3 linked regions of the Homo sapiens genome follow. The protein of the gene in region 3 interacts with the protein of the main gene of each other region in a pairwise test. Each region holds a gene or a part of one and is shown on either strand. Other genes may lie near its edges.

Region 1 (7,198 bases), on a different chromosome or scaffold from region 3:
CCACAGCCCCCCAAAGACCAGCTTGGGGGTGGGGTGGCCAGGACCCTCACTCACATAGTTCCCTCAGGGTCTGGGTGTAGGTGGGCAGGGACTCCTGGGGGGTGCCCGTCTGTAACCTGAGGCCAACTGGGATCTCCTTCATCTTTGGGGGCTGTGTCTCATCCCAGGCCATCCCCGGCTCCGGGCCCAACAACAGCACAGATGCCTTGGGCCTGCAAGGGAGACCAGCAGCCACTGTCTCAGCCCCCGGCCGCTCCCAGCCACATGCCCCACAGCCTGTCCCCTCTATTGTCCCTCAGCCCCCGGCTGCTCCCAGCCACGTGCCCCACAGCCTGTCCCCACACTGTCCCTCAGCCCCTGGCCGCTCCCAGCCGCCTGTCCCCTCTACTGTCCCTCAGCCCCTGGCCGCTCCCAGCCGCCTGCCCCACAGCCTGTCCCCACACTGTCCCTCAGTCCCCCAGCCGCCTGCCCAGCAACCTGCCCCCCACACTGTCCCTCAGCCCCCTGGCCACTCCCAGCTGGCCCGCCCCTTCTCCCCCTCTCCGCCAGTTACTGGGTGGGCTCTGGTTGTGTCTGCCTCAGGTGACCATGGGTCCAGTGTTTGCCTCCATTGATGTAAAAATTTGCCAGGAATTTCACTGCCTTCTGGTCAGAATTCATCATCAGAGTCTCCTGGCTCTCTTCCCCAACGGCACCACGGAGCTCTGTGACCTCACTGGTAGGCCCCTCTGTTGCTGGGACTCCTGAGGAAGACACATTGTCTGGCCCTGGAGGGGCTGCCCCGGGCCCCGACCCCTGGTGGGCCCCTCCCCCACTAACTAGATGATCAGCGGGTCCGCCTGGGCCAGGACCCCCAGCCTGCCCCGGTGACTCCTGGCCCAGCCCTCTCCCTCCCCGCAACCTTTCCAGCCTTCTCCCCTCTCCTGCACCCTGGGGTCTCCTGGGAGTCTGGGGTCCACTCTAGCAGGTCTGGGAGGACTGAGGCCTCAGCAGAGGGGGTGGAGGGAACAGGACCCACCGGCATCCACCAAGCCCTAGGAGATGCCCAGCTGTGTCTGGCCAGCCAGGACCCCCTGGGGGTAGGAGGGAGGGGCCCAGGAAGGCTCCCTGGAGGAAGAGGAGGAGCCGCCACCCCATCTGGATTTCCACTTAAGGGAAAAGCAAATCCACATCAGATGGGTCTGACACCAGAGGCAGGCCGGGCCTTGGAGCCCAGCCAGGGCTGGGGTGTGAGGGCCTACCTCTCACCTGGGGGCACAGAGGCTAGAGGGTGTCACAGATGGCCGGGCTGCCAGAGCTGCAAAGGAACAGCCAGCCTGTGTGAGCAAGAGCCCGTGTGGGCACCAGGGCCCTCACTGTGTGGTCTCTGGAGCTGACCACCAGTTGGTCCCAGCCCTGACCTTGGCCCAGAATCCACCAGGGCAGGGCCTGTGAACAGGGCCAACTTGGGGCCCTCCTCCGCCCTCTCTGGATGCCTCCCCTTCAGCACTGGGCCTGCCAGGCAGACAGATGGACACGTGCTTGAGGAAACACGGGTTTTATCTGGGCGAGGGGTTCACGCCTGTGCTCCGGGGCCCCTGCCCAGGTTGTGCCGGGTTCAGAGTTGACTGGCTGCCAGTGGAACAGAGTGTACTTTGCTAATGAAGCCCTTGTCATTGGACAGATAGGCTCCTCCAGGTCCTCCCTGCCCTGTAATAAACGTTGCCACCGTGAATGGTGCTGCTGGACATCCATCCTCTCCTTGAGAAGGTGCGTGGGGGAAATGCTCTCTCAGTGTCCGGCTCTGCGCCCACACCACCACAGCCGTCACAGAAGGAGGCCTCTGCCCAAATGTTGAGGGAGGGGGGTTGTTCCCCACACACCAAGCTGGGTGTCCTCTAATTCATTTCCTTCACCATTTACCTGGAGATGGTGTCAGATCCCACAGGGTGAGAGCTCCATCCCAAGAAGGCCTCCAGACACAGATAGGGGCAGGGCCTCCAGACACACACCAGTCGCAAGCCTGGGCCCCTGGAACTTCTGACCAACTAGCTTCAATTTGGGGTTCCTGTGACACCGTCTTTGGGTTAATTTGCTGGAGCCACTCATAGAACTAGGGAAGTTATGACGTTTACTGGTTTATTGTAAAGGGTATTGATTGCAAAGGATACCAATGAAGAAGCGTAGAGAGAGGCACGGGGAGGGGCTGGCGCTTCCATGTCCTCGCTAGTTGCCGCCCTCTGGGAACCTCCAGGTGTTCCCCTGTCCAGAAGTTCCCTGAGCCTCAGTCCTCTTGGGATTTTACGGAAGCTTCCTGATGTCAGCATTCCTGCCCCCAGGGCTTAGGTGGGACCTCTCCTGGAAGGGTCTTAAGACCCACAGTCAGAAAGGTGAGAATGTTAGCGTCCTGCCTTGGGGCAGGTGAAAGGAGGGCAGGAGGTAAAAGTCCCCCGCCCGCACCCCCCAAGCATCACCCACCCAACATTCTAACAAAAGGCCCTACCAAGGGCTATGGGAATATGGGAATTACCAGCCAGGAACGGTGGAGGAAAACCAGCGTCTACCAGAATGCCAGACAGCTTCTTAGGAGTGGAAGCAATGGTCCCAGTTTGCAGTGTCTTGTATGGACGTGATCCATACCAACTTGGTTTCCAGAAGGCACCACCCAAATTAGAGGCCCTTCTCACTGTGACCCTGCCGGCAGTAAGCCTCAGAAACTGCTCTCAACACACAGTCAGCATGTATGTGATTATGGTCCTGCTTTATGCCCTTATATTTACGGACTGCGGTCTTTTTTTCTTAAAAAGGTCATATTGGCCGGGCACAGTGGCTCACGCCTGTAATCCCAGCACTTTGGGAGGCCGAGGTGGGCGGATCACGAGGTCAGGAGTTCGAGACCATCCTGGCTAACATGGTGAAACCCTGTCTCTACTAAAAATACAAAAAAAAAAACCATATTAGTCTGCATTTTCCATGGAGGTGTTGTTTATATCTTTGTTTTGTGAGAGCTTTTTATGCTGATACCAGATTTGTTCATAGCACTTACTGCAAACTTTTTTCCAGTTTTTTAGTTTGCCTTTTAGTTGTTTTTTTGTTTGTTTGTGAGAAATGGTCTGGTTCTGTTGCCCAGGCTGAAGTGCAGCGGTGCGATCTCAGCTCACTACAGCCTCAACCTCCTAGGCTCTGGCCATCCTCCCACCTCAGCCTCCCAAGTAACTGGGATCACAGGCACATTCACCATGCCTGGCTAATTTTTCTTTCTTTTTTGTAGAGGTGGGGTTTCCCCATGTTGCCCAGCTGGCCTGAACTCCTAGGCTCAAGCAATCTGCACACCTCATCCTGCCTCGGCCTCCGAAAGCACCGCAATTATAGGCATGAGCCACAGTGCCCAGCCTTTCTTCTTTCTTTCTTTTTTTTTTTTTTTTTTTGAGACAGAGTCTCACTCTGTGGCCCAGGCTGGAGTGCAGTGGCACGATCTCAGCTCATTGCAATCTCCACCTCCTGGGTTCACGCCATTCTCCTGCCTCAGCCTCCCGAGTAGCTGGGACTACAGGCGCACGCCACCGCACCTGGCTAATTTTTGTATTTTTAGTAGAGACGGGATTTGACTATGTCAGTCAGGCTGGTCTCGAACTCCTGACATGATCTGCCTGCCTCGGCCTCCCAAAGTGCTGGGATTACAGGTGTGAGCCACCGTGCCTGGCCGCCTTCCTTCATTTTTATGGTTAGGAAGTCCTTCCTGTACAAAAAAAGAACAAAATTCAGGATTTGCTTAAAATGTAAACATAACACCCTGCGCCACATGAAGGGCTGGAGGGAGAGTTCGCACAGCCCTGCAGGCCGGGAAGCCCCTGACTCGAGCCAAGGCTCTGCAGCTGCAAGGCCTCCTGTCAGAGGAGGGGGCCTGGGGACTCCCTTAGCCTCACCCTGAGACTGGGGCTGGTGGCCTCCTGGGGGCAGCAAGAGCCCAGGCCCTTTCTGGAGGGACAGTCCTGTTTTCTGAGCTCTGAAGTTAATGGGACTTCCTCCCGGACCACCTGCCTCACCGCAACTCCTCCCCTGCCTGGCACCTGTCTGGGCCTCAGTGTCTCACCTGTGCAATGTGGGCCCTCACAGGGTTAGCGAGGTGGCCTGGCCCAGGAGGTGCCCACAATGCTGGCCCCTCACAATGGTTGCCCGGTGACAGGACTCCCCTCAGGGAAGGGAGCTGGATGCCGGGAGGGACTGGAGCCAGCAAGGCCAGAGTGAAAGCAAAATGACAACTACTCAGAAACACGATCTCTTCACGCCGGAGCCTCACTATGTCCCTGGGTGAGAGCCGGGAGCTCTGGAGGTGGCTGGGGCCAGGGCTGCAGGAGGGGGAGAATGGCTGGGGCCTGAGGCATGGAGGCCAGCTGTGAGGGGCCCAGAGCTGGACCCCAGGAAACTGAAGGCCACACCACGGGGCACTGCAGTCTGTGGGCTGGGGAGCCCTGGGACAGGGGAAGCTCAGGGATGGGGTTGCCAGGGGCCCAGGCCTCACCCTCCCTGCTGGTGTGCAGCTGCGAACTCGATACCTGGTGGCCAGCACGTCTGTCGAGCAGAAACTGGGTCAGCCAGCAGCCGGCAGAGGCCGGCTAGTAAGTGCCCGACGCCCACTCCAGAGAGGACTCCACACTTCATTTCATTTTATTTATTTATTTTTTGAGACAGAGTTTCGCTCTTATTACCCAGGCTGGAATGCAATGGTGCAATCTTGGCTTACCGCAACCTCTGCCTCCCAGGTTCAAGCGATTCTCCTGTCTCAGCTTCCGGAGTAGCTGGGATTACAGGCATCTGCCACCACACCTGGCTAATTTTGTATTTTTAGTAGGGACGAGGTTTCTTTATGTTGGTCAGGCTGGTCTCGAACTCCTGACCTCAAGTGATCTGCCCACCTCGGCCTCCCAAAGTGCTGGGATGACAGGCTTAAGCCACCACGCCCGGCCAGGACTCCACACTTTAAAGACAAGGCAAGCAAACGCCAGGCTGCCTCACTAGATATCCCCCCAAACAAAAAATAAAAGTAACCCCTCTACGGAACGTGTGTGTGTGTGCACCTACATACACACACGCTACATGCAAAGGGGAAAGGCTGGGAAGAAACCACACCTGCCTCTGAACAGCTACGTCTGGGGAAGGGGCAGGTGAAGCTGAGGCTGGAAGTTGCTCGGCTTTTTTTTTTCTTTTGAGACGGAGTCTCGCTCTGTTGCCCAGGCTGGAGTGCAGTGGGGCGATCTTGGCTCACTGCAAGCTCCGCCTCCTGGGTTCACGCCATTCTCCTGCCTCAGCCTCCCGAGCAGCTGGGACTACAGGGCCCGCCACCAATGCCTGGATAACTTTTTGCATTTTTAATAGAGACAGGGTTTCACCATGTTGGCCAGGATGGTCTTGATCTCCTGACCTCGTGATCCGCCCGCCTCAGCCTCCCAAAGTGCTGGGATGACAGGCGTGAGCCACCGCGCCCGGCCCTTTGGCAGTTTTTAAGACGAAGGTAGTTCTCACTCCTTGAAAGATCACATAGACCCTGAGGCGCTGAACCGCCTGTGACCACCTGCACCATGCCCCTCGAGGTTGAATGAGGGCCCGGAAAAGCCCAGCCCTCCACCTGCCTCCCAGTTCTCTTCCCGTGCAGGAGGCTACTGGCCTCCTGGGGTGGCACAGGTGCAGGCCAAGCCCACGCAACACCCTCCTGGTGGGCCCTGCGTGTGTCCAAGGGTCCGTCCCTCGCCTATGTCCTGGCCCACACGTCTTGTGCCTGTACTTGCTTTGCCAGGGCAGAGCACCCCTGATTTGCTGGCAGTTGGAATGAGGGGTGGGAGAGGGTTGGAGGGGCTGGTACAAGGCAGGCGGCCATCTGCTGTGGTGCTGACGTGTTCCCAGCATGTGGTGTGTGCCGCCTGTTCAGGCTGAGAGAGCTCTAGAAGGCAAGTGCCACTGCAGCCCCATTTACAGGTGAGCAGAGGGCAGGCGAGCTGCCACAGGCCAACCTGCTGCTAAGTGGCCAGCAGGCTGAATCCACATCTGGCTTGAAGGGGCCCTGCCCAGTGCTGGGGCTGCCCTTGAGACCTGCCCTGCCTTCTTCTCTTCCCTCCACAGCTATGCCGGCTTCTTTCCGCAGCTGCGCTACCAGGTGGGGAACACCTATGGGCGTACCACGGGGCAGCTGCTCACAGACCCCAGTGTGCAGAAGAGCCCCTGCTCTGTGCTGTCCCCCATGTCCAAACCCAAGTTCATTGAGGACTTCAGCCAGTCCAAGCCCCCGAGGGTTCCCTGCCAAGACCTGACGGAGCCCTACATCCCCCACTACACCAGTGAGCTGCCAGTCCCCAGCCCTGCACCCTCCTGTGCCCGCCTGCCTGTCCCGGCACTCACAGGCTGCCCTGTTGGTACAGGTCTGAAGCCCTCTAAGAACTTTGAGATTCTGGGCCAGCTCCCACCCTTGGAGGTGGACGCCCAGGAGCCGCCAGGGGTAGAGAACATACCCAGACAGATTCTGCTGCCTGCAGGCTTCACGCCCGACACCCCGCACCCTCCGTGCCCACCAGGCAGGAAGGGAGACTCCAGAGACTTGGGACACCCAGTATACGGGGAAGAGGCCTGGAAGAGCGCCACTCCTGTTTGCGAGGCCCCCAGGCAGCACCAGGCAGCCAGGGGATGCACCAGTGCCAAGCCCATTCCGCTCAGCCCCAGGTGGGAGCTGCACCGTGACCTCCGCTTCCTCCCCGCTCCAGCTGTACCACTGCCAGAGGGATGAGTACCCACCCCCCGCCCGCCGCCAGCAGGAGACGCTAGATGTGGGCAGCTTCCAGCGGCTGCCGCAGCTGGACCACCCTAACCTAATCCAACGCAAGGCCATCTCAGGTGGGTGTGGGCCTGGGCTGGGCTGGAGAAGGCCGCCCCTCCCCACAAGGTTCTTGCAGTGTGAGAGCCCCTGAGGAGGCTGCCACAGGGGCCCACTTTTCCTGCTCCAGAACAGGCTAGCGGCCTGGGGGGACCTCCTCTGCCTCCCAGCTGCTTCCAGGAGCCCAGCTTTTCCCAAGACGAGGCGGTGCCTTGCCTGCCTGTTCCCATTTGGCCACATCAGACAGTCGCCAACGTTCAGGGAACGAAAGGGAGCCTTGCCTGGCTTCCCTGACACGTCTGAGGGCAGGTGGGTGTGCCCAGGGGAAGGCTAAGGGGGCTTGGGGTAGCCCGTACA
Region 2 (7,000 bases), on a different chromosome or scaffold from region 3:
CTTTTTCTTTTTTTAAAATCTAAAAATTTTGATTGGAGAAGGATTAGAGACTAAATTGTTGATATTTGAATTTTATTGTGGTTTTGGTTAAAGTTTGATGCAGGACCTTCAGAGCAAAGAGAGGGTACAATGGTGACCTTTAAACAATATATATATTTTTTGAGACGGAGTCTCGTTCTGTCGCCAGGCTGGAGTGCAGTGGCACGATCTCGGCTCACTGCAACCTCTGCCTCCTGGGTTCAAGCGATTCTCCTGCCTCAGCCTCTCGAGTAGTGGGATTACAGGCGCCCACCACCACATCCAGCTAATTTTTGTATTTTTAATACAGACAGGGTTTCACCATGTTGATCAGCATGGTCTCGATCTCCTGACCTTGTAATCTGCCCGCCTCAGCCTCCCAAAGTGCTGGGATTACAGGCATGAGCCACTGCGCCGGGCCCTTTAAACAAGATTTAAAGACCAGCACACAAAGTTTCTGAGTACAAAAAAAGGTAATATTTTAGGTTAGGGTCATTAGACCAGAATTAGAATCATTCTTTTTTTTTCTTTTTTTAATTAAAAAAGATGGGGTCTCCTTATTTTGGCCAGATTGACCTTGAGCCTCAAGCAACTTCTGCCTCGACCTCCCAAAGTACCAGGATTACAGATGTGAACCATTGCACCTGGCCAGAATCATTCTTTTGATAATAATGATGGTAATTGAGTTTATATGCTGTGTTCTCATGAATCCAAGCAGAGCCCACTGTTTCCAGAGATTCCCTTGGCAGCCACCCTGGGTTGAGGAGGGTCCCCTCCTGGCACAGCTGGAACCACCGGTGAAGAGCCATTTTTCAGTCAGCACCGTTTAGTAATATAAGACTTTTAGCCTCGAGGAGTCTTCCGTTGTTAGTTCCTAACTTTAATGACTTTGTGGTAAAAATTCCTTAGCGAATGACTTCTGTGCAACAATCATGTAATTTTTAAAATTCCAGATGCTTTAGCCGTTCAGAATCCATTTTTTCTTTCAAAACCAGAGTTCACCAGCTGTTTCTCTTGAGCGAAGACTTTGCAATGAGCTTTCAAATGTTCACACCAAGTAGAAGCAGGAAGGGAGAACTGTGGCTGGGCAATGAATGAAATACTGACATTTAGCTGTAGAAGGTAGGCAGGGGCTCACATGGTGTGCACAGCCCCTTATATGACTACTGGTCCTGTATCTGCTTCCTTTCCCTGCCCCATTTCCCCTTTGGCTTTTTGTCATGACTCAGAAATGGATGCTAGACATTATGGGGCTCCCTCCAGTCACTCGGGTCACTCGTCACAGACTTATAAACAGAATCACAGAACTTATTGTCAGATGAAGCTTCAAAACACCAGTTGGCTAAACTCCTTGTGTTCTGGCAGGTAAGATGTCGGCATCCTTATTTAACAAATGATGCTACTGAGAACTATGTATGCAGAGACATAGTCTCAAAATAAGTGCAGTCATGCCTCGCATAATGACGTTTTGTCAATGTCACATATGTGAGAGTGGTCCCATAAGATTATACTGGGCTGTCAATTTCCTAATGCCTAGTATTTACTATACATTTTAATGTTATTTTGTGTACTTCTACTTAGTAAAAAAAAGTTAACTGTAAACCCGCCTCAGGCAGGTCCTTCAGGAGGTATCAGAAGAAGGCATTGTTGTCATAGGAGATGATGGCTCCATGCGTGTTTTTGCCTTGAAGGCCTTCCAACGGGACAAGGTGTGGAGGTGGAAGGCAGGGATAGTGATGATCCTGACCCTGGGTAGGCCCAGGCTAGTGTGTGTGTTTGTGTCTTAGTTTTTAACAAAAAGTTTGAAAAGTAAAAAAATAAAAATTAAAAATAGGAGCTTATAGGATAATAAGGATATAAAGAAAAAATATTTTTGTACAGCTGCACAATGTATTTGTGTTTTAAGCTGTGTTTTTATAAAAAAGTCAAAAAATTAAAAAAATTTAAAAATTATTATATATAAAGTAAAAAAAGTTATGGTACGCTAAAGATAATTTATTGTTGAGAAAAAAATTTAAATGAATTTAGTATAGCCTAAGTGTACAGCGTTTATAAATACAGTAGCATGAAATTATGTCCTCAACCCTCACGTGCACTCACCACTCACTCACTGACTCACCCAGAGCAACTTCCAGTCCTGCAAGCTCCATGCATGATAAGCCTCCTATAGAGGTGTACCATTTTTCATCTTTTATAGTGTATTTTTACTGTACCTTGTCTATGTTTAGATATGTTTAGATGGAAAAGTACTTACCATTGTGTTACGGCTGCCTACAGTATTCAGTACAGTAACATGCTGCACAGGTTTGTAGCCTAGGAACAGTAGCTATACAATATAGCTTAGGTGTGTCATAGCCTATACCATCTAGGTTTTTGTGAGTACACTCTATGGTGTTTGCATGACAAAATGACCTAATGACACATTTCTCAGAAAGTGTCCCTGTCAATAAGTGATGCATGACTGTGATTGAAATAAGTAGCCCCACATTATTTTTCTCATGTCAACTTCAGGTTAATTTTCCAGCCACGTGGCCTTGTGCTTGCTCATCATAAAAAAATGTGGATAAAATTCTACCTGTTAAGCCACAACATTTGCCTGTCATGGGTGGACATTTACCGTTTATTTTCAGAGTTCAAAGTTTGAACTCTCAGAGAAATGCAAATAAGACAGTAAACTCCTCGAGGTGAGGAATGGCAATCTCTGAAGATAAATCATATATTTATTGTACAGTATTGAATGTTGTAAGTGGCAGTAGAGATCATGTAATCTGGCCTTCTTCTTTTACAGGTGAGAAAAGTGAGAAACAGCAGCAGAGTGATTGTTAGAACCTGGCTCCTCTTCTTTTACTTAGAACTGTTTTCATTAAGTTGTGTTTCATTTCATAGTTCTGTATAATTCATCCCTGCTTAAGATACATTAAATGAATTGAACTGAATCCCTTTTTTTTGAGCTATGATGGCTCTTAAAAACTTAGATTTTCAGCCAGGCGCAGTGGCTCATGCCTGTAATTCCAGCAGTTTGGGAGGCCAAGGTGGGCAGATGACCTGAGGTCAGGAGTTCGAGACCATCCTGGCCAACATGGCAGAAACCCATCTCTACTTAAAATACAAAAATCAGCTGAGCATGGTGGCGTGTGCCTGTAATCCCAGCTACTTGGGAGGCTGAGGCTGGAGAATCGCTTGAACCTGGGAGGCAGAGGTTGCAGTGAGCCAAGATCATGTCACTGCACTCCAGCCTGGGCTACAGAGAGAGACTCCGTCAAAAAAACAAACAAACAAAAAACCACGTAGATTTTCAAGTAATTACTATTGTTACACTAAATGTCAATGGATCCTTAAGAATCTATTTGTTCATGAATTCATTATTTATTCATTCAACGTTTATTGAGTGGCTACTTGGTTCAGAATTAGAATTAGCATGACAGCCACACATTAGAAAGGTATCACTTTTTGACTAAATTAAAAACTTGCTAAAAATAGTTATCCATTGATGGAATAGGCTACCCCGAAAGGCAGAGAGCATTTTGTCATTGGAAGTATGTAGGGCAGTGTGGATGACTCTAGGGTGACTGTCATGAGGGTTCTGCACTGGGGAGGGGGCTGCGTTGGATGATGAATGGGAACCCTTCCAGTGCTAAGATGCTGTGATCGTTGTCCTGCAGGATTGGGATTGTGCAGGATTTGAGCTACTGTGTAAATTTCCTATTCCCTGCTCATTGGGCTTCCACATTTTGCTTCCTTCCCTTGCCCAGGTGGTTCCATTTCAGGAAGCCTAGATAGCTTCTTTGCAGTCATCTGCCCGAATGTCGTAGCTACTTTAACTCCCCAGAGCTGTACATGTCTAGGATTGATATTGATCATTAACACAATTATGTTCGCCCAGATGAACAAATCTACCAGGAGTAGAAACGTGCATTTGACAGGTGGCCTTGCATGGAGACTAATCGCTTTCACAGGTTGAAAGGTGAAATATCTAAAGTTTAATGAGTAAGTTGTGTCCTGAATGTGGAATCTGAGTTGAAATTGCATTTTGTGACATGTACGCCTACCTAACTTTTCTTTTTCATACCTGTCATCTTTTTTTTTTTTTTTTTGAAACGGAGTCTTGCTCTGTAGCCCAGGCTGGAGTGCAGTGGCGCAGTCTTGGCTCACTGCAACCTCCGCCTCCCAGGTTCAAGCAATTCTTCTGCCTCAGCCTCCCAAGTACCTGGGATTACAGGCATGCCCCACCACGTGCAGCTAATTTTTGTATTTTTAGTAGAGACAGAGTTTCACCATGTCGGCCAGGCTGGTCTTGAGCTCCTAAACTCAAGTGATCCGCCTGCCTCGGCTTCTCAAAGTGCTGGGATTACAGGAGTGAGCCACCGCGCCTGGCCTGTACCTGTCATCTCTTGGTTTGTGAGTGGATTGATTATTGGACTTTATTTTTAACACAGGAGAATGTGCGTGTTTTGCATTTGTAGTGAAAGCATGCCTCATCTTACTCCAACACTGATAGGAAAAGGAAGATTATTTTACAATGGTCAAGTGAAAAAAAAAGTAAATACAGAGATAAAACGGGGTTCTAATATTTCTGCTACACTGGAAACTTAGAGTTGCAAGAGCTGTTTTGGGATCACAAATCTTCTGAAGAAAAAAAGTTTGCGTATTTCAGTACAAGTCTTAATGTTTCCCTAGCGTCTTGTGTTATAGCTGCAGGCCAAGCAAAATGAAATGTGAGACACTGTCCTTGGGGATAGAGCATCTGTATTCAATTTAAACAGTAGATTTGGGGGCCTTAAATTGCCTCGACTCTATTAATCATTTTGTGTTCCTTAGTTTATAGAATTATCTCCTAGAGACATTAACTTATCCATTAATTTCTTCCATTGTGTTTATTTATTCATTCACAAACACTAGCACCTACTGTATACACAGTACAGTGTTGTACATTGCAGGGTACTTAAAAATGTAGAGTGCCAGGCATGGTGGTGCATGCCTATAGTCCCAGCTCCTTGGAAGGCTGGGGCGGGAGGATTGCTTGAGGCCAGGAGTTCAAGGTGGCAGTGCGCTATGCTTGTGCCTACAAATAGCCACTGCACTCCAGCCTGGACAACATAGCAAGACCCTGTCTCAAAAAAAAAATGAAAAAACTCCCCCAAAACCAAAAATGTAGATTGTTCTCAAGGGCCATCCAGTCTAGAGAGAACTAAGGGAGCCTGGTATTCTTAGGCCTTAGAGCTTAACAGCCACACCTAGGATGCCTCTTCAGAAGGTGTTCCAGCCCTTCCTGTGTCTTCCCAGTTCTGATACTGGATTATGTCATTATGTCTCTGTTGAGTAACTCCTTCCAATCAGGCCTGCACACTGCTGCCAGGACAGTCCTCACAAAGCACAGATCTGATTGGGTTATTGTTCCTCTGTGGAAGGGGCTTTCAGAGACTCATTATCTCCCCCCAAGCAAATTCTTAGCATCTCTTTTCAAGCTTTCCATACACTGGCCCTTAAACACTTAAAACGGACACTCTGGCCTTTTTATTATGCACATTATTCTGCCCACCGAGAATATTACAGAATCCGTCTTTCTTGCTCCCAATCTGAACGCATCAAAATGTCATCCCTCATTTACCACCTAGCAAATCAATAATGCTTCTCAGCCTTCCCTGGTTCTCTGGAATCGTCTGCTCTCTCCTTCTTCTGTTATAGTTTGTTATGGATATAACCTGTTTTTCTGACTCCAATGTAGACTTCTTCAACTCAAGGTTTCAGTTCTGGTTTATCTCCTTACTCCCTCATCTATGTAGTACACTTATGGTTTACTCTGTTCTCACTGGATTAGACCAAACTCTTAATTATATTTAGGATGTATTAATCCAATGCATAGATTAACCAAGTCTATTATTTTTATATCTTTTGAAACCAATCAGGAGTTTCAGAAGTTCAGTTCAGTTTAAATATTTATTGAGATGCATACACTATATAGTCAGATACTATGATAGCTCTTGAATATAAAAAATATATATACTTATGTTTGTATATATATGTGTAAATTGATATGTAAATTCAAATAGATAGTGTTGTCTACACCATTGAGAAGCCTATAGTCCCGTGGAAAAAAGAGAATTCATTCTCATGAAGTTTCCGGATATTGTTTCATCAGAAGGACTGGGCACATCGGGGTGTACTAAAATCATTAAGAAGTATTTAGCACCAGTAGATGCCTAATAAATACCTTACAGTCTAGATGGATGGATAGATGGAGGAAGAAAGAAGGGCTCCTTTAATTTATAATTTACCTATTGCTGGGTTTACTCCTAGGTATGACAATTTTGAAAACAATTTACTCAATGTTTATTTCCACACTGTGTATGAAATATGCTGCTCTTCATTCAGAAAGAGATATATAATTCTCCATTTGTAGAACACTGAGTTAATTTCATGGTTGTGATGTTGCTTTTGCTTACTTTCACCCACATTTTCTCCTCTGTAGGGTGGCAGCTCCGTAGGGTGGACACACGCTTTGGGAGACCTGCAGCTGTTTGTGTCTGGGGGCAATGGTGAAGGGCAGTGACTCATTGGCCCAGAACTCATGATCTCATCTCTCACCCAGCTGGCTAATCGGCCTTGGGGACAGGAGGATGAGCGCTGCACTCCCTCCTAATCATGCAGCTTTTGTATGTCTTTCTTTACTTGACTTAAATTGTAATTTGAATGGAAAAATGGACAAATTCTATCATTTGAATTTAACTTTTATATATTTTCTTGACTCTGATTTGGGATTATCTAAGTGCATTTATTCAAATATTTATTGTGTTTTTGAAACTTTTTTTGAAAAGCATAAGGTAATACATGATAAAAGATATTGTTATTACCCCTGTTTCTGCCATTTCAAGGAGTCAGAACAGGCTCAGTGGAAACAAAATGAGATGTCTTATGGGAGTTACTTTCCCTTCAGCTAATCTTGGTATGAATTTATATTGACACTACCTTTAAAATTTTATTC
Region 3 (7,000 bases):
ACTGCAGCCTTGACCTCCCAGGCTCAAGTGATCCTCCCACTTCAGCCTCTCAACTAGCTGAGACCACAGGCACACACCTCCACATCTGGCTAATTTTTGTATTTTTTTAGAGATGGGGTTTTATCATGTTGCCCAGGGTAGCCTCGAACTCCTGAGCTCAAGCGATCCACCCGTCTCGGCCTCCCAAAGTGCTGGGATTACAACTGTGAGCCACCATGCCCGGACAAGGGGCAAGTATTTTTAAATTGATCCACCAATGTTTAAAAATTGGGAAATTTCACATTTTAAAATTAGGATTTCTGACTTCTCTTGAAAAAAAAAATAAACAAAAAACTGAAAATCTGGCAAAATAGGCTAGAGCTGAGTAGTATCTGCCACCTTTGAAAAAATACAGAGCGTTCTAAGTCACAGCAGCACCACTGCTCCCTGTGGTCATACACATTACACCAGAGAGTGCATTTGAGTTTGCAACTAATGGCCTTTCCTGGTGGCCATCATCAGAATCTCAAGGCCTATAGCTCCAGCCCAAGAGATTCCCAATCCTGGAGGTTCCGCTGGGGTGGGGCTCAGTGCTGGGCTGCAGGGAGATGCTCAGGAAGCCAGCACTGCAGAGCAAAGGAGATGGAGATGGTGACTGGGAGCATTTTCACTGTGTGCATAGTGTGTGAAGTTAAGGCACAGAATGGAATTGTCATATCCTGATGATTTTTAGGAACCTGCAGGATGAAATGGCTCAGTCAACCTCTCCATGCCCCTTAGCTCCATCTATTGAAACACTACATATCCTTCAAGACCTGAAGTAAATGGCACCTCCTATGATAGTGACTGAGTTGAAATCTACCACCCATTGACCTCTATTCTCTGAGCTTCATGACCCTTTCCTCGGTATTTGGAGGCAGCAGATCTTCCCTGTGCTGAGTCGTATTTTCCCCAGTGCTGCCCTGGGCTCCCTGTGAAGACACCTCAGTTTCCAGGCACCTGGAGTCCCATGCGGGGCATTTCTCCAGAAATAACTCAGTGACTCAAACAGGAGAAATCGGGAAGATGAAAAACGTTCTGGAAACAGATGGTTGGTGATGGTTGCACAGCAGTGTGAGTGTGCTTAATGCCACCAAACTGTATGCTTAAAAATGGTTAAAATGGTTCAAAAAGAGGTGGGGGGACAGAAGGGACCCTGAGGTGATGGCACTGTTTAGTGTCTTGACTGTGTAGGTGGATACATGAAGCTACATAGGTGATAGCATTGTATATAATTAAACACACATACACATTCATGAGTGTAAGTAAAACGGAAGAAATCTGAATGATACAGGTGGGTTAATATTCTGGCTGTGATATTAGTTCTCTAAAATGTTACCATTGGAGAAAACTGGGCAAAATGTACAAGGGATCTCTTTGTATTGTTTTCCAACTGCCTGTGAATCTGCAATTATCTCAATTAAAATTTCAATTAAAAAAAATGAGGAGAGGGCCTGTGCTTTGCCCAGCAGATCTCTCCTCAGGGACAGGATCTGTCCTGGACCACCATCCCCTCCCAGATGCCTGAAAAGTGTGCAGTCAGTGGGTGGCAGGAACATTAAAGTGTCCCTGGGTCATAAGCTTCATCACAGGCCACCTAATAGTTAACAAAGAGGGCTTCGGGGTGAAGTATACCCCTTTGTCTCATACTCAAGTCCCTGTGTCTCTATAGGTCTCCTCCTGTCCCACCTGGCCTCCTCCTCTTCCCCCAGAGCCCCGCTCCGGCCAGGCCAGGCCCCTCCCTGCTTCCTGCACGTGGCATGCCCGTGGCTGCCTCGAGGCCTCCGCTCACACTGTTTCCCGGCCTAGATTGCCTTCTCCACTTTCTCACTCCCCAATCATTAAGAATACCAATACTTATGATTGCCAAAAATAAAGTGGAATAAAACAAATCATGTTATGTTTTCAATCAACTTTCTATTAGTACCGATTTCAGAAATGAAATTTATTTTAGGAGATTACCCCTATCCTTATCTCTACCCATCCCTATCTTTTTTTTTTTTTATTATACTTTAAGTTTTAGGGTACATGTGCACATTGTGCAGGTTAGTTACATATGTATACATGTGCCATGCTGGTGCGCTGCACCCACTAACTCGTCATCTAGCATTAGGTACATCTCCCAATGCTATCCCTCCCCCCTCCCCCCACCCCACCACAGTCCCCAAAATGCTTGCTTGTGGAGTTTTACTTTGCAAAAAAATAAAAATAAATAAAGAGTACACTGTATAGCTTCCAAAAAAAAAAAAAAAAAAAGAATACCAATACTTTCACACACAATGCAGACACCTATTACTTCACTTTGTCTTCTGAATACCTCTGGAGGTTAGCATAGCAGGGACTATTTTCCCTATTTTACAAGCCACCAGATAGATTCAGAGAGGTCAAGTGACTTGCCCAGGCTCACACAGTAAGAAGTGGAAACAGGTCATTAGACTCCTGATGCAGGGCTCATCCCAGTAGGCCACACTGTTGAGAGACCCAGGCTGCCGCACCTCTCTGTTTCCCCAGACCCCACGGAACCTGGCTCCTGCCCACACCTCCACCTTTATTTGGTCTCCATTTCTTGCTCCCTGTGCTCCAGCCACCTCTGCCTTCCTGCTACTTCTCCATCATGCCAAGCTCATTCCTTCTTCAGGGCCTTTGTACTCACTGCCCTCTCCTGAAGTGCTCTTTCTCCAGTATCACAGAGCCAGCTCCTCCACCCCTTCCAATTCCAGCTCAAATGTGCCTCCTCTGTGACACTTCCCTGGAAGACCTTAGCTTCCCCACCCCAGTCACTCTCTATCATGCCACCCTGTATTATTTTTTCTGCATAGCACTTTCTATGTAAAATGTGCTTGTTTACTTACCTCTCCCCCACTATATGAAGCATCATGATAGAATAAATTCCATCCATCTAGTTTAAAAACGTATCTTGGGCCCAACATTGTGCCTGGCATGCATGAGACACCCAGTAAATGTGTGTTGAAGGAATGAATGCAGCTGTAGTGGCCTCCTGACGCTGCCCTTCCCACAGGCTGGCGGCGCGCATCATGTGGCGGGTGGAGAGAGAAGGCACCGGGCTCACGGAGGGCTGCCTGGTGTCCGTGGACGACTTGCAGAACCACGTGGAGCACTTTGGGGAGGAGGAGCAGAAGGACCTGCGGGTGGACGTGGACACATTCTTGCAGTACTGGCCGCCGCAGAGCCAGCAGTTCAGCATGCAGTACATCTCGCACATCTTCGGAGTGGTAGGCCCCCTGCGTCCCTTCTCCATCCTCCCTGTCTGTCTCCTCTTTCCTTCCCTCCTCCCACTTGGGGAGGGTGGGGCTTCTCAGAAGTGAACTAAGAGGCAGAAGCCCTGTCTGCCCTGGACCCTGATTTCTATTTCCATAAAGGTCTCATCTAGCCCAGGCAGCCAGAGGCGCTGGAGAAACCGCCTTCTATTTACCGCATGTAGCAGAAACATCTACTGCCCCTTCCATTTCTGAGCCCAGGGACAGGCCTCCAAATGACCCAACTAATAAAATCCGGAGATTCTAGAGTATGATTCCTTATCAAGGAGGGGCCATGGTGACAGCTGGGATCGTCCAACTAAGAAGTTTCCAGAAACTGTCAGGCCAGAGTTGGGAGGGGAGGCCAAGAGGACTGAAGGAGGACAGGAGTTTGAAGTGAAGACCCCTCATCCTGGACTCTGTCTTCTGGCCTTGTTTACTGTGAGGCCATTCCTGCTGTATCTGAATTGGCATCCCACATACAAATTTTACTTATTTATCCATCTCTGGATGGTAGATTTGGATGGTAATTTATCCTCTTACTTATCTGCACTTTTTACATTTTTTTCCTCTCCACGTTGAAAATAAAGACCCCCAATCACTATCCCTTCCTGCCCACCAGTCACTTTGGAAACCTTTTTCCAGGTCTGCCAGGCAGGATTGATGTGAAGCCTGGAGCAGTGGGGGATGTGAGCCAGAGAGAGGGGAGTCAGGGTTTTGGGGTGGGAGCAACCAAGCCAGACGAGGCCATAAGAGTCCGGGAAGTGGGGGCGAGAACCCGGTGGATGAGGAGGCTCAGGTCCTGGCTGTGGGGATGGATGTGTTCCATCTGGTAGGCCAGGACCTTTATGTGGTGAAGGTGAGCAGGCTGAGGACGGAGGAGGACAAACATCACACTGACATCTCTCCAGTCTTCACCATATTGGGGGGCAAAGGGAGAGAGATTGATTGAGTCTAAGGATTTGGCTCACGCAATGGTGGAGGCTTGGTAAGTCCAAAATCTGCAAGGTAGGCCATCAGGCTGGAGATCAGGGAAGTGTTGCAGTTCAAGTCCGGAGGCATTCTGCTGGCAGAACTCCTTGCTCAGGGGAGATCAGTCTTTATTCTATTCAGGTCTTCAACTGATTAAATGAGGCCCACCCACATTCTAGCAGGCACTCTGCTTTACTCAAACTCCACCAATTTAAATGTGAATCTCATCCAAAAACACCTTCACAGAAGCATACATTATAGTATTTGACCAAATATCTGGGCACCATTGACCAGCCATGTGGGCACACAAAATTAACCACCACAGCTTCCCATGTATTATTTTACACAATCTTTACAACACAAGGTAAGGTCCATGCTTTCAGTATTTCTATTTTATAGAACAGAAAACCTAGGCCCAGAGGGGTTACATGACCTCCAAAAGCCACATGGTCAGCTTGTGCCCAGGGAAAGTCTAGAAGCAGTCTGTATTTTCAGGAGCCAGAGCTTCTACCTGTTTTTTTTTTTTTTTTTTTTTTTTGAGATGAGGGTCTTACTCTGTCACTCAGGCTGGAGTGCAGTGGTGCAATCATGGTTCATTGCAAACTCCATCTTCCAGGCTCAAGTGATCCTCCCGCCTCCCAAGTAGCTGGGACCACAGATGCATACCACTATGCCTGGTTAATTTTTGCTTTTTTTTTTTTATAGAAGCAGGGTTTCACCATATTGCCCAGGCTGATCTCAAACTCCTGAGCTCAAGTGATCTGCCCATCTCTGCCTTCCAAAGTGCTGGGATTACAGGCGTAAGCCACCACGCCTGGCCTAAGCTTTTACTTTTACCTGTTATGTTCTATAGCCTTGGGGTGAATTGGTGTGTTGAGTAATCTTCGGCATCCCTGATAGGTCTGGGGACTAGGGCTAGAGGTCATATAATTACCAAAGGTTAGAGCTGAAAAGATCCTTGGAGCTTATCTAGTCCAATTTATTCAACCTATAGATGGGAAAACCAGGGCTCAGAGAAGAAAGAAGTTTGCTCCAAGTAGTACAGCTTGTTAGTGGTACTCAGAGGCTTAACATCATGAACTTACTAAATGTCTGATGAGAATAAATGGAGAAAGTGACACTCCTCCATATCTATGACAAATATCCATGTGAGGGCATAAATGTCTACTGAGTTTCTGTTATGTACAGCATGTATTCATAGATGTATTTATAGATGAAGTGGAAATCTGCATGCAGTTACTAATGTATTCTACGTTATATTTATTCTTATGTATTTTTCCTACTGTGAGAGCAGATATTTGGTGTCTGTTTCTGTAAAGAAAAATTTATTTTTAAGGAAAAGAAAATCACTTGGATGCCACATCAGTAGTAACCAACTTGATTTGCCTTGAATCTCAGAGATAAGTGTTAAATATGGCACTCATCAGATTTAACAACTGTGAGCAGGGAATATAAAACTATGCACCAGATACAAAATAATCAAAAGAGATGTCAATTTTTTTTTATGAACAGCTACAGGAGTTTAAACTGAGTAGGCAGAGGAAACAGGGGAAGGAAAAGCTCACACACACACACACGCCCACGCGCACACAAAGCAGGGTACAGAGAGAAAAACCAAGACAGAGACTGAGGAATACTCATGTAAGACCCAGATACAGAAAAAGGAAAATATTTCCACCTTTGACTCTTTTAGAATAGAGCCACAAAAAACTTTCAAGGTAGGGCTGCATTTTTGCAGGTATGGGACTGTTCCATGGCCCTAATCTTGTGTGTCATCTGGAGTCACGCAGAGAACAGGAGACTAATTGTTCTGTGTCCAGACTCCCTAAGCATCTCCAGGGTGAGACTGGGTCTTCTGTTTTTTAAAACTCCTTTCAACAGCTAGGATGTTGTTCTGTCCATGTCTGTCGACTGACTCTTTCATCTTTTCCCCTGGGTAGATTAACTGCAACGGTTTTACTCTCAGTGATCAGAGAGGCCTGCAGGCCGTGGGCGTAGGCATCTTCCCCAACCTGGGCCTGGTGAACCATGACTGTTGGCCCAACTGTACTGTCATATTTAACAATGGCAAGTGAGTATGTCTTTATGTGGGGGTGTGTGTGAAGGGGATGGGGAGACCTATGGTGTTTTCTCCACTTGACTTAAGCCAAAGTCAACCTGCTAAACCTGAACTAGCATAAATTTTAAATGTATAGCACATAGAAATCTCATTCCAGAATAATTGTGAATGAGAGAAAGGCATCATGGAGGATATCAAAGAATTCAACCTGGGTCATTTCTGAATGTGTATGTTTCTTGGGGCTGCCTGGACAGGTTAGATAAACCTTTAACTACTATTTTAAAACTTGAAGCCTAGGATTATCTGTCTAGAGGTCATTTAGTCAAGGTCTCAGCAGGAATCAGGAGGCACACTCAAAAGGTTTTACCCAAATAGAATTGAATGAAGGGACAATTTACAGAAGTGTGGACAGGGTTTAAGATACTAACAAGGGGCAGGGACTGGTGGCTCATGCCTGTAATCCCAGCTCTTTGGGAGCCCGAGGAGGGGGCGGATCACTTGAGGTCAGGAGTTTGAGATCAGCGTGGACAACACAGTGATACCCCCGTATCTATAAAAAATAAATAAATACATAAATAAATACATTAGCCGGGCATGGTGGTGTGTGCCTGCAGTCCCAGCTACTCATGAGGATGAGGCAGGAGGATCACTTGACCTCAGGAGGTTGAGGCTGCAGTGAACTATAATCATGCCA

The links. Proteins that work in one complex are often made in the same cells at the same time.
Region 1: the proteins of SMYD1 (region 3) and CIMIP2A interact in binary tests that used the Homo sapiens proteins (3 or more experiments, as listed by UniProt).
Region 2: the proteins of SMYD1 (region 3) and DISC1 interact in binary tests that used the Homo sapiens proteins (3 or more experiments, as listed by UniProt).

What each region holds. Positions count from the first base shown.
Region 1 is NC_000009.12:137,244,752-137,251,949, reverse strand, and holds the start of CIMIP2A (ciliary microtubule inner protein 2A), read left to right. Parts: upstream 1-4,234; coding exon 4,235-4,290; intron 4,291-6,096; coding exon 6,097-6,311; intron 6,312-6,392; coding exon 6,393-6,643; intron 6,644-6,731; coding exon 6,732-6,861; intron 6,862-6,971; coding exon of another isoform or gene 6,972-7,135; exon of another isoform or gene 7,136-7,140; intron 7,141-7,198. Other genes in the region: protein STPG3, read right to left, coding at 55-212, 554-663. UniProt on the Homo sapiens protein: Microtubule inner protein (MIP) part of the dynein-decorated doublet microtubules (DMTs) in flagellum axoneme. Binds to the intra-tubulin interfaces.
Region 2 is NC_000001.11:231,629,790-231,636,789, forward strand, and holds part of DISC1 (disrupted in schizophrenia 1 protein), read left to right. Parts: intron 1-7,000. UniProt on the Homo sapiens protein: Involved in the regulation of multiple aspects of embryonic and adult neurogenesis. Required for neural progenitor proliferation in the ventrical/subventrical zone during embryonic brain development and in the adult dentate gyrus of the hippocampus.
Region 3 is NC_000002.12:88,084,825-88,091,824, forward strand, and holds part of SMYD1 (histone-lysine N-methyltransferase SMYD1), read left to right. Parts: intron 1-3,037; coding exon 3,038-3,251; intron 3,252-6,187; coding exon 6,188-6,318; intron 6,319-7,000. UniProt on the Homo sapiens protein: Methylates histone H3 at 'Lys-4' (H3K4me), seems able to perform both mono-, di-, and trimethylation. Acts as a transcriptional repressor. Essential for cardiomyocyte differentiation and cardiac morphogenesis.